Homo sapiens: one gene and its partners. The protein of the gene in region 2 purifies or fractionates together with the protein of the main gene of each other region. This does not show direct contact. Each region holds a gene or a part of one and is shown on either strand. Other genes may lie near its edges.

What was found.
Region 1: the proteins of SLC35G2 (region 2) and NUP188 purify together in Homo sapiens (affinity purification with mass spectrometry; one large-scale study listed by BioGRID and IntAct). This does not show direct contact.
Region 3: the proteins of SLC35G2 (region 2) and CDS2 purify together in Homo sapiens (affinity purification with mass spectrometry; one large-scale study listed by BioGRID and IntAct). This does not show direct contact.
Region 4: the proteins of SLC35G2 (region 2) and HIGD1A purify together in Homo sapiens (affinity purification with mass spectrometry; one large-scale study listed by BioGRID and IntAct). This does not show direct contact.

The regions. Positions count from the first base shown.
Region 1 is NC_000009.12:128,954,199-128,957,698, reverse strand, and holds part of NUP188 (nucleoporin NUP188), read right to left. Parts: intron 1,350-3,500; coding exon 1,265-1,349; intron 748-1,264; coding exon 667-747; intron 1-666. UniProt on the Homo sapiens protein: Component of the nuclear pore complex (NPC), a complex required for the trafficking across the nuclear envelope. Required for proper protein transport into the nucleus.
Region 2 is NC_000003.12:136,824,651-136,830,234, reverse strand, and holds part of SLC35G2 (solute carrier family 35 member G2), read right to left. Parts: intron 1-5,584.
Region 3 is NC_000020.11:5,195,698-5,198,387, reverse strand, and holds the end of CDS2 (phosphatidate cytidylyltransferase 2), read right to left. Parts: 3' UTR 501-2,690; downstream 1-500. UniProt on the Homo sapiens protein: Catalyzes the conversion of phosphatidic acid (PA) to CDP-diacylglycerol (CDP-DAG), an essential intermediate in the synthesis of phosphatidylglycerol, cardiolipin and phosphatidylinositol.
Region 4 is NC_000003.12:42,790,991-42,794,490, forward strand, and holds part of HIGD1A (HIG1 domain family member 1A, mitochondrial), read right to left. Parts: intron 3,310-3,500; exon of another isoform or gene 3,286-3,309; coding exon of another isoform or gene 3,264-3,285; coding exon 3,167-3,263; intron 1-3,166. UniProt on the Homo sapiens protein: Proposed subunit of cytochrome c oxidase (COX, complex IV), which is the terminal component of the mitochondrial respiratory chain that catalyzes the reduction of oxygen to water. May play a role in the assembly of respiratory supercomplexes.

The DNA of each region.
Region 1 (3,500 bases), on a different chromosome or scaffold from region 2:
AGGTCAGGAGATTGAGACCATCCTGGCTAACACGGTGAAATCCTGTCTCTACTAAAAACACAAAAAATTAGCCGGGCGTGGTGGCAGGCGCCTATAGTCCCAGCTACTTGGGAGGCTGAGGCAGGAGAATGGCGTGAACCCGGGAGACAGAGCTTCCAGTGAGCCAAGATCACGCCATTGCACTCCAGCCTGGGAGACAGAGCGAAACTCCATCTCAAAAAAAAAAGAAACTCTACCAAATCCTTATCACCTCTAATAGCCCAAGATTCTATGATTAACATGTCAGTCTTTGACCTCTCCACTCCTCCAAGTATGAAGACAGATCTCAGCTTATATGCATATATATTCTTTACTTTTTAAAGAGATAGGGTCTCACTCTTTTGCCTAGGCTGGAGTGCAGTAGTGCGATCACAGTTCACTGCAGCCTCAAACTCCTGGACTCAAGTGATCCTCCTGCCTCAGCCTCCCAAGAAGCTGGGAGTACAGGCACAAGCCATTGCACCCAGGTCATGTTTTTTTTAAAGCCTTTAGTAGGTCTTCCCTGAAGATGACGGTACCTGATCACCTACCACCGATAAAAGAATTGGTGCCAAAATCCTACATTATCTAAAACCAACAGGGAAAAAGGATAAAGGCAGAAGAAAGGAGCTGACATAAACCACAAACCTTTACTGAGTCCCGAGTACCCCTGTAGTCCTCTTGCAGGTAACACTGGAGTAACTGCACACTCTGTTCTTCATCAAGACCCTGAAACACAGAGATTTTAAGTAAGGAACAGCTCAGAAATCGCACACAGGATGCAGAGAATTTAAAGATTTGTCTTCTACAATGAACACAGGACTTGAATAAACAAAAATGCTTCTCAAAGATTCATAAAACATAACAATTCTGACTCTAATAGAAGACAAGAGCCAGTCACTGACATACAATTTTTATTACAATTAAATGTACATGCCAGAAACAACGATGCTTATTCACTAAGCACATTAATACAGCAGTAGGCATGATGTGAGCTTCCAAAATGACAAACTTAGTCACCTTAAAGACCACCACATGTCTGGTGAAGAAAACCCTATGATATGCAGTGAATGGATCAGGCAACTTTGACTTGTAACTTTTAGGGAGAAGAGTTGCAACCTGGGTATTTATAAAACAATTTAATCCCCAAAACAAAAAGAAACTGAATTTTCACTATCACTAGCAATATAACCACGCACATCCACACTGCAAGTAATAAATTGAGCGAGTGCTAATTTTTACTCACCAAAAACTTGCTGATTCTTAAACCCAGTTCCTTCAATGGTGAAGCTACATCTTTATTAGCTTTCACTTTTTCAGCTGAACTTGGACTACAAAAAGAACAGTGAATCATTTCTTCATTCTCAATAGCCCACTGAGTTTAAAATAAAAATATTTTAAAATATTTTTCCTACAGACTATTTTCTGCCCTTCAGATGCCTATAAACACACACACAAACACACACACGCACACACACACACACACACACACACACACCCATTCACCTCTACAAACTTCATAACGCAGAACTGGTTATGCCTAACAAAACAAAACAAAAAAAAAGTGGTTAAATTACAGTTATAACAATGTTATTTGTAAACACATTAAGTTACATTATTTTTGATCCTTACTACTGCCCTAAAAGGCAAATATTACTATTCTCCTTTTACAAATGGAATTGCCAGCACTTAGGGTAAATAACTTACCAAAAATCCCACAGCTCATAAACAGTTGCTAAAATTTAAAACCAGGTCTGTGGCATACATACATATATTAATATATTATCTGTAATAGCTCTGTCCACCGAGAAGGCCTAGAATTTATAATACTCCAACAGCAGGAGGTACATGCAGCACCCAGATCCTGCTTTATAATACCATTCTCTAATAACAGGATTCCTTGGAGAATTGGTTGATTCTAGAGTCAGGGCAAGGAAAATACAAGAAAATCTTGAAGCATCTTATAGTGAAAAGAAGTACAAAAGGGCTTAAGAAACCAAAGTCCTTTCGGTAGGAGATGACATAATAGAAAAAAAAGAAAAGAAAAAAAGAAAAAAGGAAGGACACGCCCAAAGGACAGAGGCCAACCTAAAAGAATGCCCAATAGCCAAAGCTGAAACAAGGTATAAACAAAGTATAAGATAAATAAAATAAATATATTTGAGTCTATACTGATATAAACTAATGAATAAATAAATAGGATAGGGAGGGGCCAGAACAATGGCTCATGCCTGTAATCCCAGCACTTTGGGAGGCCAAGGCAGGAGTGTAGCTTGAGGCCAGGAGTTTGAGACCAGCCTAGACAACAAAGTGAGACCCTCATCTCCACCAAAAGTGAAAAAAATTAGCTGGACATGGCTATATTTAGTACTCACTTCCAAAAAATAAAATAGGAAAAGAGAAAAAAGTAACTTTACAGAGGAGAAACTTGGCAAATGCCTCCTTAACTGAGTGACCAAGATTAACATTACCAGTGATTTCATGTGGACAGCATGTACTCTCTGCTATGATGTGGTAAGAAGGGTAGCTTGGCCAGGCGTGGTGGCTCACGCCTGTAATCCCAGCACTTTGGGAGGCTGAGGCGGGCGGATCACCTGAGGTCAGGAGTTCAAGACCAGCCTGACCAATATGGTGAAACCCTGTCTCTACTAAAAATACAAAAATTAGCCAGGCATGGTGGCATGCACCTGTAGTCCCAGCTACTCGGGAGGCTGAGACAGAATTGCTTGAACCCAGGAGGCAAAGGTTGCAGTGAGCTGAAATCGCACCATTGCACGCGAGCATGGGCAACAAGAGCGAAACTCCATCTCAAAAAAAAAAAAAAGAAGAGCACCTCACCTCTGTGTATTTTTCCCAAAAACTCACAACCCCAGTCTAATAATAAGGAAAACATCAGACAAACCCAAATTGGGGGCATACTACAAAATAACTGACCAGTCCTCAAACTTGTTCAAGGTCATGAAAATCAAGGTAAGACTAAGACATTGTCGACATTGTCACCGGCCGCGGTGGCTCACGCCTGTAATCCCAGCACTTTGGGAGGCCGAGGCGGGCGGATCATGAGGTCAGGAGATTGAGACCATCCTGGCGAACACAGTGAAACCCTGTCTCTACTAAAAATACAAAAAATTAGCCAGGCGTGGTGGCGGGCGCCTGTAGTCCCTGCTACTCGGGAGGCTGAGGCAGGAGAATGGCGTGAACCCGGGAGGCAGAGCTTGCAGTGAGCCGAGATCGTGCCACTGCACTCCAGCCTGGGCCACAGAGCGAGACTCCATCTCAAAAAAAAAAAAAAAAAAAGACTAAGACATTGTCACAGCGGGCGCCTGTAGTCCCAGCTACTCGGGAGGCTGAGGCAGGAGAATGGCGTGAACCCGGGAGGCAGAGCTTGCAGTGAGCCGAGATCGTGCCACTGCACTCCAGCCTGGGCCACAAAGCGAGACTCCATCTCAAAAAAAAAAGACTAAGACATTGTCACAGCTAAG
Region 2 (5,584 bases):
CAGGAGGCTGAGGCAGGAGAATCGCTTGAACCTGGGAGGCGGAGATTGCAGTGAGCTGAGATCGCGCCACTGCACCCCAGCCTGGTGACAGAGGGAGACTCCGTCTCAAAAAAAAAAAAAAAAAAAAAAAGAAATAATGTATGTCTAAAAAATCTAGAAACAGCCTCAAAAGGGCAAATCTCAGAGTTATTGGCCTTAAAGAGGAGATAGTGAAAGAGATAGAGGTAGAAAGTTTATTCAAAGAAATAATATGAGAACTTCCCAAACCTAGAGAAAGAGATCAACGTTCAAGTACAAGAAGGCTATAGAACACCAAGCAGGTTTAACCCAAAGAAGACTACTTCAAGGCATTTAATAATCAAACTCCCAAAGATCAAGGATAAAGAAAGGATCCTAAAAGCAGCAAGAGAAAAGAAACAAATAACATATAATGGAGCTCCCATATGTCTGCCAGTAGACTTTTCAGTGGAAACCTTACAAGCCAGGAGATAGTGGCAAGACATATTTAAAGTGCCAAGGGGGAAAAAAAAAATTTACCCTAGAGTAGTATAGCTGGTGCAAATATCCTTCAAGCATGAAGGAGAAATAGTTTCCCAGACAAATAAAAGTTGAGGGATTTCATCAACACCAGACCTTTTCTACAAGAAATGCTAGAGGGAGTTCTTCAATCTGAAAGAAAAGAACATTAATCAGCAATGAAAAATAATCTAAAGGAGTCCAGGTGCGGTGGCTCACACCTGTAATCCCAGCACTTTGGGAGGCTGAGGCGGGCAGATCACAAGGTCAGGAGTTCAAAACCAGCCTGGCCAATATAGTGAAACCCCGTCTCTACAAAAACTACAAAAATTAGCCGGGCATAGTGGCGGCCGCCTGAAGTCCCAGCTACTTGGGAGGCTGAGGCAGGAGAATCGCTTGAACCCGGGAGGCGGAGGTTGCAGTGAGCCAAGATGGCGCCACTGCACTCCAGCCTGGTGCCAGAGCAAGACTCCATCTAAAAAAAAAAAAAGTCATCTAAAGGTACAAAACTCACTGGTGATAGTAAGCACATAGAAAAACATAGAATATTATAACACTATAATTGTGGTGTGTAAACTGCTCTTATGTAGAAAGACTAAATGATAAGCCAATCAAAAATAAATTTTCAAGACGTAGACAGTACAATAGATGTAAAGAGAAACAACAAAAAGTTAAAAAGCAGAGAGATAAAGTTAAAGTGTAGAGTTTTTATTAGTTTTCTTTTTTGCATGTTTATGCAATCTTTGTTGTCATCAGTTTAAAATAGTGGGTTATAAGACAGTATTTGCAAGCCTCATGGTAACCTCAAGTCAAAAAACATACAACAGATACACACACACACAAAGCAAGAAATTAAATATGCCACAAGAGAAAATCATCTTTACCAAAAGACAAGAAGGAAGGTAAAAAGGAAGAGAAGACCACAAAACAACCAGAAAACAAGTAACAAAATGGCAGAAGTCCTTACTTATTGATAACATTGAATGTAAACAGACTAAATTCTCCAATCCAAAGACACAGACTGGCTGAATGGATTAAAAAGCAAGACCCAGTGAATCTGTTTCCTACAAGAAACACACTTCACCTATAAAGAGACACATAGACCAAAAATAATAAAGGGATGGACAAAGATATTCCACGCCAATGAAAACCAAACAAGGACAAAAGTAGTTATACTAATATCAGACAAAATAGATTTCAAGACAAAAACTGTAAGAAGAGACAAAAAAGGTCATTATATAATAATAAAAGGGTCAATTCTTCAAGAGGCTATAACAACTATAAATAAATATGTACCCAGTGCTGGTGCACCCAGATATATAAATTAAACATTACAGGGAAAGAGAGAGACCTCAATACAATAATAGCTGGAGACTTCAACACCCCACTTTCAGCATTGGACAGATCGTGCAGACAGAAAATCAACAAAGAAACATTGGAGTTAATCTGCAATATAGAACAAATGGACCTAATAGATATTTACAGAACATTTCATCCAACTGCTGCAGAATACATATTCTTCTCATCACATGGATGATTCTCAAGGATAGAACACATGTTAAGTCACAAAACAAGTCTTAAAACATTAAAAAGGTTGGGTGCGGTGGCTCACGCCTGTAATCCCAACCCTTTGGGAGGCTGAGGTGGGCAGATCACCTGAGGTCAGGAGTTTGAGATCAGCCTGGCAAACATGGCGAAACCCCATCTCTACTGAAAATGCAAAAATTAGCTGGGCATGGTGGCGTGCACCTGTAGTCCCAGCTACTTGGGAGGCTGAGGCAGGAAAATCGCTTGAACCCAGGAGGTGGAAGTTGCAGTGAGCCGAGATCATGCCACTGCACTTCAGACAGAGCAAGACCCTGTCTCAAAAAAAAAAAAACAAAAACCCTGAAATGATACCAAGTATCTTCTCTGACCACAAGTAAACTAGAAATCAATAACAAGAAGAATTTTGGAAACTATACAAACACATGGAAATTAAGCAATATGCTCCTGAATGACCAATAGGTCAATGAAGAAATTAAGGAAATTGAGAAATTTCATGAAACAAATGATAATGGAAACACAACACACCAAAAGCTATGAGATACAGTGAAAGCAGTACTAAGACAGAAACTTACGGCTATAAATGCCTACATCAAAAAAAGAGGAAAAACTTCAAATACGTAACCTAATAACACATCTTAAAGAATTAGAAAAGCAAGAGCAAACCAAACCCAAAATTAGTAGAAGAGGCCAGCAATTTGAGAGGCTGAGGCCGGCAGATTGCTTGAGCCCAGTAATTTGAGACCAGCCTTGGCAACATGGCAAAACCTCATCGCTATAAAAAATACAAAACTTAGCCAGGCGTGGTGGTGCACACCTGTAGTCCCAGCTACTCAGGAGTCTGAGGTAGAAAGATCACTTGGGCACCAGGAGGTTGAGGCTGTAGTGAACTATAATCATGTCCCTGTGCTCCGGCCTGCATGACAGAGCAAGACTCTGTTTAAAAGGAAAAAAAAAAAACTTAGTAGAAGAAAATAAATAATAAAGATTAGAGCAGAAATAAATGAAATTGAAATGAAAATACATAAGGTCACTCAAACAAAAAGTTGGGTTTTTTTAAAAGATACACAAAGTTGACAAACCTTTAGTCAGACTAAGAAAAAGAGAGGACCTTCCCTCCACTATTGTCCTATGACCCTGCCAAATCCCCCTCTCCGAGAAACACCCAAGAATGATCAATAAATACTAAAAAAAAAAAAAAGAAAAAAGAGAGAAGATCCAAATAAATAAAATCAGAGGCAGCTGGACAAGGTAGCTCATGCCTATAATCCTAGCACTTTGGGAGGGTGAGGCAGGCACTTGAGCTCAGGAGTTTGAGACCAGCCTGGGCAACATGGTGAAACCTCATCTCTACCAAAAATATAAAAAATTAGCCAGGTGTGGTGGTGCATGCCTGTGGTCCCAGCTACCTGGGAGGCTGAGGTGGGAGGATTGCTTGAGCCAGGGGAGACAGAGGTTGCAGTGCATCACGACTGCACCACTGCACTCCAGCCTAGGTGACAGACCACATCTCAAAAAAATAAATAAATAATAAAATAAAATTAGAGATGAAAAAGGAGACATTACAACTGATACCACAGAAATTCAAAGGATCATTTGCGGCTACTATGAGCAACTATATGCCAATAAATTGGAAAATCCAAAGGAAATGGATAAATTCCTAGACACATATAAAACACCAAGATTGATCCATGAAGAAATTTGAAACCTAGACAGACCAATAACAAGTAACAAGATCAAAGTCATAATAAAATACTACTGATTTTTGTATGTTGATTTTGTATCCTGCAACTTTACTGAATTCTAAAGTTCTTTTCCTCCCCATAAAGAAAAGCCCAGGACCTCGTGGTGGCTCATGCCTGTAATCCCAGCACTTTGGGAGGCCGAGACAGGCGGATCACGAGGTCAGGAGATCAAGACCATCCTGACTAACACAGTGAAACCCCTGTCTCTACTAAAAATGCAAAAAATTAGCCGGGCATTGTGGCGGGCACCTGTAGTCCCAGCTACTTGGGAGGCTGAGGAAGGAGAATGGCGTGAACTCAGAAGGTGGAGCTTGCAGTGAGCCAAGATCGCGCCACTGTACTCCAGGCTGGGCGACAGTGTGAGACTGTGTCTTAAAAAATAAAATAAAATAAAATAAAGAAAAGAAAAGCCCAGGACCTGATGGCTGAATTCTACCAAACATTTAAGGAAGCATTCTAATCCTATTCAAACTGTTCCCAAAAATAGAGGAGAGAATACTTCCGAACTCACTCTATGAGGCCAGTATTACTCTGATACCAAAACTAACAAAGACGCATCAAAGAAAGAAAACTACAGGCCAATATCTCTAATGAATACTGATGCAAAAATCCTCAACAAAATACTAGTAAAGCAAATTCAACAATACATTAAAACAGTCATTCATCATGACCAAGTGGGATTTATCCCAGGGATGCAAGGATGGTTCAACATGTGTGAATCAATCAATGTGATAAATTATATCAACAGAATAAAGAACAAAAATCATATAATCATTTCAATTAATGCTGAGAAAGCACTTGATAAAATTCAACATCCCTTCATGATAAAAATCCTCAAAAAACTGGGCACAGAAGGAACATATCCCAGCATAATAAAAGCCATATATGGCTGGGCAAGGTGGCTCATGCCTGTAATCCCAGCACTTTGGGAGGCTGAGGGGGCGGGTCACTTGAGTCCAGGAGTTTGAGACCAGCCTGGCCAACACGGCAAAACCTTGCCTCTACTAAAAATACAAAAAATTAGCCTTGGTATGGTGGTGCATGCCTGTAGTCCCAGCTGCTTGGGAGGCTGAAGCATGAGAATTGCTTGAACCTGGGAGGGAGAGGTTACAGTGAGCCAAGATGGCACCACTGCACGCCAGCCAGAACAACAGAGCAAGGCTCTGTCTCAAAAAAAAAAAAAAAAAGTTATATACGATAGACCCACAGCTAGTATCATATTGAATGGGGAAAAACTGAAAGCCTTTCCTTCAAGATCTAGAAAAAGGATGGCCACTTTCACCACTGTTATTCAAGACAGTACTGGAAGTCCTAGCTACAGCAATCAGATAATATAAAGAAATAAAGGACATCCACGTTTGCAGGGACATAGATGAAGATGGAAACCATCATTCTAAGCAAACTATCACAAGGTCAGAAAACCAAACACCGCATGTTTTCACTCATAGGTGGGAGCTGAACAATGAGAACACATGGACACAGGGTGAGGAACATCACATACCAGGGCTGGTAGGTGGGGAGTCAGGGGCTGGGGTAGGGATAACATTAGGAGAAATATCTAATGTAAATGACGAGTTGATGGGTGCAGCAAAGAAACATGGCACATGTATACCTATGTAACAAACCTGGACGTTGTGCATATGTACCCTAGAACTTAAAAAGTATAATTTTTTTAAAAAAGCAAGAAATAAAGGACATCCAAACTGGAAAAGCAGATGACAAATTATCCTTGTTTGCAAATGATATGATCTTATATTTGGAAAAACCTAGAGACTCTG
Region 3 (2,690 bases), on a different chromosome or scaffold from region 2:
AGATCACTCCAGTTACTGGCTTGTGTGACAGAACACATGGGTAGTTAGAGAACACAGGACTCAGGACATGGGTCATAGGTTTGGGTTTTATCATGCAAAGTCTGTGTGAGAGGCCTCACAGGCAGCTGGAAATGCAGGCCCACTTGGGCTAGAGACATGGACTTGGGAAGTGTTGAAATGAGTGTGGTGATCAGGATCCTGGGAGGGGGTGGGAACACCTAGAGGGGAGAATTCAGTGGGCGAAAGAGAGCCTCAGGCAGAATGCCACCACCCAAGGGATGGCCCAGAAAAGAGACACCCAGAAAGAAGACCGAGGAGGAGCAACCAAGGGCAGGAGGAAAGCCGGGGGGGCAGGTTGCCAAGGCCAAGGACAGAGGGAGTCTCTAGAAGCAAGCGGTGGTCAGCAGCATCCTGGGAAATAATGCTGGCTCCACATAAGCAACCAAACGTCCACACCCCTGGCCTTCCGCCACCCCCACCATCGAAAACCACACATGATCTAGAATTTAATATATGTTTATTTGTGTAGTAGGAACATTCAGGTATATAAATAAGGTAAATGCTTTCCAACGTACAGTATATCATGTTCTTACATTGCGTGGAAAAAGAACCTACATGTATTGTTCAACATGGATCACGAGTGCACAGAGAGAGAGATCAGCTGCATTTAGTGAAACGCCAAGTTGGGAAAATGGCACAGCAGTAGCGCACAGGCACACAGCTATCTGGGGAGGCTGTGGGGACTGTCACGTGGACTCTACACACCGAGAACTGCTTCAAGGTCGCCTGTGTCTGAGTGCGGGTAAAGTGAATATCAACACCCAGGCTATCAGGGTGAGACAACTGAATTCCATCATGTCCATCCACTTTACAAAGGGGTGGGAGGCACCATGGAGAAACTGACCAGAAATGCTCTGCCCTGTCACAGAGGAGACAGAGCCAGGGCAGACACGGCTGACCTCTGGGAGGCACAGACACTGGCAGTGATGGGTCCCATGGGATGCCTGGCACTCCCAGCACAGACAGCTCCCCAAAGCAGGTGGGGAGGCCCTTTCTGTGTTTGGGAACTTTTTAGTTAAACAAATCCTCAGAATCGAATTAAGAAGGATGTCCACAGCTCGATCAAAAAAAAAAAACCAAAAAAAAAAAAAAAACCACCAAGGTTCCCAAGATCCTTCAACAGAGGGGCTTCCCATCTGATCTTACCCTCCTGTTTCAGAAGGTATTAAACATCAATAAAAATTAAAATATATTATCAGTATCAACTCTAGAAGATAACCCATGGCTTCAAATCTCCCTGGACGGGTTCTCTGAGCCCAGATTTCTGGTCCCCAACTCGTATGACATCCAGGGCCAGCGAGCGTTCAGCTGGCATCTGTTAGAGTCTGCCCTCCACTGTGAGACTCCTGGCCCCTCCGTGGCCCTGGTATTCCTCCTGCTGCTGCCCCTAGGAGTCCTCCAGCTGGATAACAATAAACCAAACCGCTGTCTCCTAATCCCTGACTTGTTCTCCTGACTCCTAGTCCTTTGGTTTCATCGGCCCCTGATGTCTGTTCAACTCTTCCCCTTTGTAATCAGCCCCTAGCACCCAGTCAGCATGACGTAAGACAGAAAAACAGTTTACTAAAGGCCAGAGCCCTGTGCACAGAGGATTTAAAAGAAACAGCACCCAAAGGACACTCATGAAAACATGTATGCACATTCTGCCTGCTAGAAAACATTCTCAACCTCTTTTCTACTCTGCTGTTCCTTTAAGAAAAGCCAGCATACAAGAACCTAGCGCAGGTGTCAAAAAAAGGCATCCAAACTGCGAGGACAGAGGTGGCTATGTGGATGATTATCGGCAAACACAGTTTCACTAGAGACAAAATCACCAGGTGGCTAACCCTTCTGAGTGCTTTATGCAGGCAAGGTCCTCTGGGGGCTGCAAAAGGCTAGGCCCTGCCCAATGCCCGGGAGACCACTGCAAAGGCATTCTCTGCTTGATTTCCAGAGGGCCCTTACCACAACCCCCTCCCCGGCCCAGCAGTGGAGGCTTTCTATGGATACAAGGCTGCCTAGGTCTATTCAACAACACAATGAGGGAGGAAGCACCAGGCAAGGCAAACACAAACCCAGAAGGACAGGAGGGCTCGGGGGCAAGCCTGGGATTGGCCTGTCACAGCAGCTGCTTCCTAGAAACCCCCACAACCATCTTCTCCTGGTTCATGGCATTATCATTACTTCAGCAATTCAATGAAACAGAGGGACCATTATTTCCATACTATTAATAGCAATGTGCTGTTGGGTCCCACTAATACCCAGGAAATAATCCACAGTCAAACCAGTAGTTCAGTTATTATTCAACTGACCTAGGAATTTCATGGATCCTGTTAGCCAACACCATTCCTTCAAAGTGAGGCAGCCTCCCCTTACACACACGTGCCCCAACTCCCCACCCCCATTCAGAAAACTAAGTTCAAGAAACTCTTTTCATTAAGTCCTGTGCCTGTTCTCCCTTCATTCATGAGTCACCCATTTGAGTCTTTGCTAACCTAGAATCCGGCAGAAATACCTCACATCATGTGTCCTCAATGGGTCACCCACTTCTACCCGGTTACTACTTTTAGAAGGAAACATGAAGCTCCAGATTGGCTGCGTCATAAGGATGTGGGCAGAACTTCTAGGCTTTTAGTCTACATAATCCCCTA
Region 4 (3,500 bases), about 94 Mb from region 2:
GAAGGTAGAATAGTGAAAGTGTACTGGCTTATGAGGTATCTAAACATACCACTAAGTTTCTGGCAGACAGATCAAAGCAACAAAATACATACAGTAGTTGAGTAACAAATCTCTCATATGTTTAGTATATGACATAGTTCACATTTCAAATAAGTGGAAAAAGAATGCAAAACAGATACCCAAATCACTGTGATAGAAAATTAAAGTATCCATACGGAAAATAAGTTAGATTTTGCCTCATGTCATACCTACAAATAAATTCCAGATAGATTAGTATCTCAATGATAAATGCACAACATAAGGAAATACAGGAACCTAAGTAATCCCAGGATCATGAAGGCCTTGCAACATATTAAGAAAACATTAATACCTAAAATACATAATTATAATTTAATTAGAAAAAGACATCCTAGTTAAAACAGAAACAAAAGCAAAAACAAAAAAGCTAATTCACAGAAGAGAAGCCTGAATGACCAATACATATGAAAAGATGCTCAAAGAATGATAATATCTAGTGCTACTGAGAGTATGGGAAAACCAGCCCATCACAGCCTATTGGTGTAAATCATTGTTTTGGTACAATTAAGTATATAAGGATATTTAATTTTTACACACACAGTCTTCCAACAGTTTGTAAAATCAACATAATGGGAACAACTCCTATGTCGTCAATACAGCAATGGTTAAATCAATGTAGGGTTTATGTACTCCCAAGAAGGGATATGTATAAATGACAACCCATTAAAGAGCAGAAAATTTTATATTTGTATCTTATCCTTTTGAAATGTCTTTCTGCGTATTTCATAATGACTTAAATGACTTAAAAGTCATAAATGACTTAAAAATAGGTAAACACACAACACACTGGCAGGAAGTACGTGCTCAAATTATTTTTTACTGAGGGAATATACAACCAAAAAATTTTATAGATCACTGTTACAAAACATTGTATATCTACAAAATTAATGATTCAATTATTAAAAATATAAATGTTCCTATATGCATTGTTATAAAAAGATAATGAACAAGGCTAAAGAAAAATATTTCATCTAAAAATAATTATAAATAATAGTTTATGGTAGTACACAGAGAAGAAAACACTGACAGACTGTGCAGACTGCTGTTGTCTTTCAGAGTCGGGATCATAGGACATGGTACCTTTCTGTTTTATGTACTTTTGCAACTAACTTATTAATTATATGGTCAGAAGAAAAATTCCTTCAAGAGACTTCAAAGTCCTTTAACTTCTTGGAGAGCCATCTAAAAGGATGCTCAGTAGTTTAATTGTTAATAATGAAAAATTAGAAATCACATAAATTTCTACCAAGAGGATTATAATAATGTTATATACAACAGTAATTTATATCATATAAATTAAGTCATTCTTAAAAGTGGAGTTTTGGCCGGGCGCGGTGGCTCACGCCTATAATTCCAGCACTTTGGGAGGCCGAGGCGGGCGGATCACAAGATCAGGAGATCGAGATCATCCTGGCTAACACGGTGAAACCCTGTCTCTACTAAAAGATAGAAAAAATTAGCCAGGCGTGGTGGCGAGCACCTGTAGTCCCAGCTACTCGGGAGGCTGAGGCAGGAGAATGGCGTGAACTCGGGAGGCGGAGCTTGCAGTGAGCCAAGATCCTGCCACTGCACTCCAGCCTGGGCGACAGAGCAAGACTCCGTTTCAAAAAAAAAAAAAGTAGAGTTTTAGGCCAGGCACGGTGGCTCACACCTGTAATCCCAGCACTTTGGGAGGCCGAGGCAGGTGGATCACCTGAGATCAGGAGTTCGAGACCAGCCTGGCCAACATGATGAAACCCCCATCTCTACTAAAAATACAAAGAAATTAGCTGGCGTGGCGGCGGGCACCTATAATTCTAGCTACTCAGGAGGCTGAGGCAGAAGAATCGCTTGAACCCAAGAGGTGGAGGTTGCAGTGAGCCGATATCGCGCCACTGCACTCCAGCCTGGGCAACAAGAGTGAAACTCCTTCTCGGAAAAAAAAAAAAAAGTCGAGTTTCGAATAACATAGTTAAAAACATGAGATAAAAATTATAATACATATATGCATCTTAGTATGATCCTGAATTTGTGAAGATAAAAAAAGAAAAAACAACTGGAGAAATATGTACATCAAAATGGTAACAACAGTTATATCTAAATGGTGGCATTAAAGGTAATTTTAAAATTCTCTGTAAGATTAAAAATTTTTAAACTTTTTCTTAAGATTAATTTATATACTATAAATTTCACCTTTCATCTGTTTTAACTGCATATTAAATGAATTTTAATATGCCTGCGAGTCCGACCTCTGGGGGATAGGAGACTGAATAGCTAATTTCAGTCACAGCTGACACCTCAATAAAACCTGGTTACCAAGGCTTGGTGGGCTTCCCTAGATGGCAAGACTTAGCATGTATTGCCACATATCACATCAGTACTGAAGAATTAAATGCACCCCCTCTCCCCCTGTGGGACTCCCTGGGAAGGGGACACCTAGAATTTTGTGTCTGGTTTATCCTACACTTCATTCTATATGTCTTTGTTGACTTTAACCTATATCCCATTGCTGTAATAAACTATGACTGTAACAAGCATTTTTGAGTCTTATGAGTCTTGGCCCAATCATCTAACCTGAGGATGGTCTTGGGGTCCCCCAATACAACATTATGCACTGAAATAAGACTCAATAAAATAAGAAGTCTCAGCTGGAGTGGCAGCTCACGCCTATAATCCTAGCACTAGGCTGAGGGCAGGCGGATTGCTTGAGCCCAGGAGTTCAAGACTAGCCTAGGCAGTATCGCAAAACCCCGTGTCTATACAAAACTACAAAAATTCGCTGGGCGTGGTGGTGCACACCTGTGGTCCCAGCTACTTAGGAGGCTGAGGTGGGAGGATCAAGAACCTGAGAGGTCGAGGGATGGGGGCAGTGAGCTATGATCAAGCCACTGCACTTCAGTCTAGGTGAAAGAGACCCTGTCTCCAAAAAGAAAAAAAAAGTCTGAATACATACAGAAGAATCTTTATGATGAGATTTATATCATGCCAATCTCAGCATATTTCAACATAAGAAAAAAATGGAAAATACATTCTTTCAGGATATTGCTAAATGAACAAATTATCACGGCTCTACCATATTCAAGACTACTAAAATGTCAGTCAAACTTACCAACGGGTACGAATGGTGCCTCTTTAGCTTTTCGAATGAGTTTTGATCCCTGATCTTCCTCATATGAAGGAAGGGAAACACCTGTGTCTGTTGACATAGTGATTGCTTGAAGAATCTCCCTGAGAAAGAATTTCTATGAGGTTCTGTAATTAAAAGCATCTGAACATTATTAAATATCTGGATGTATTTAAAATATTCCTAACTTCCATGAGAATCTTAGTATATGTTATCCATAATCCTAAAGTTAAAAAATATTTTTAGAAATTAACTGTATTTTTAATGTACAGTCACTCTCAAGGGAGAGTTGTATACACTTATTCCCCCTATTATTTTG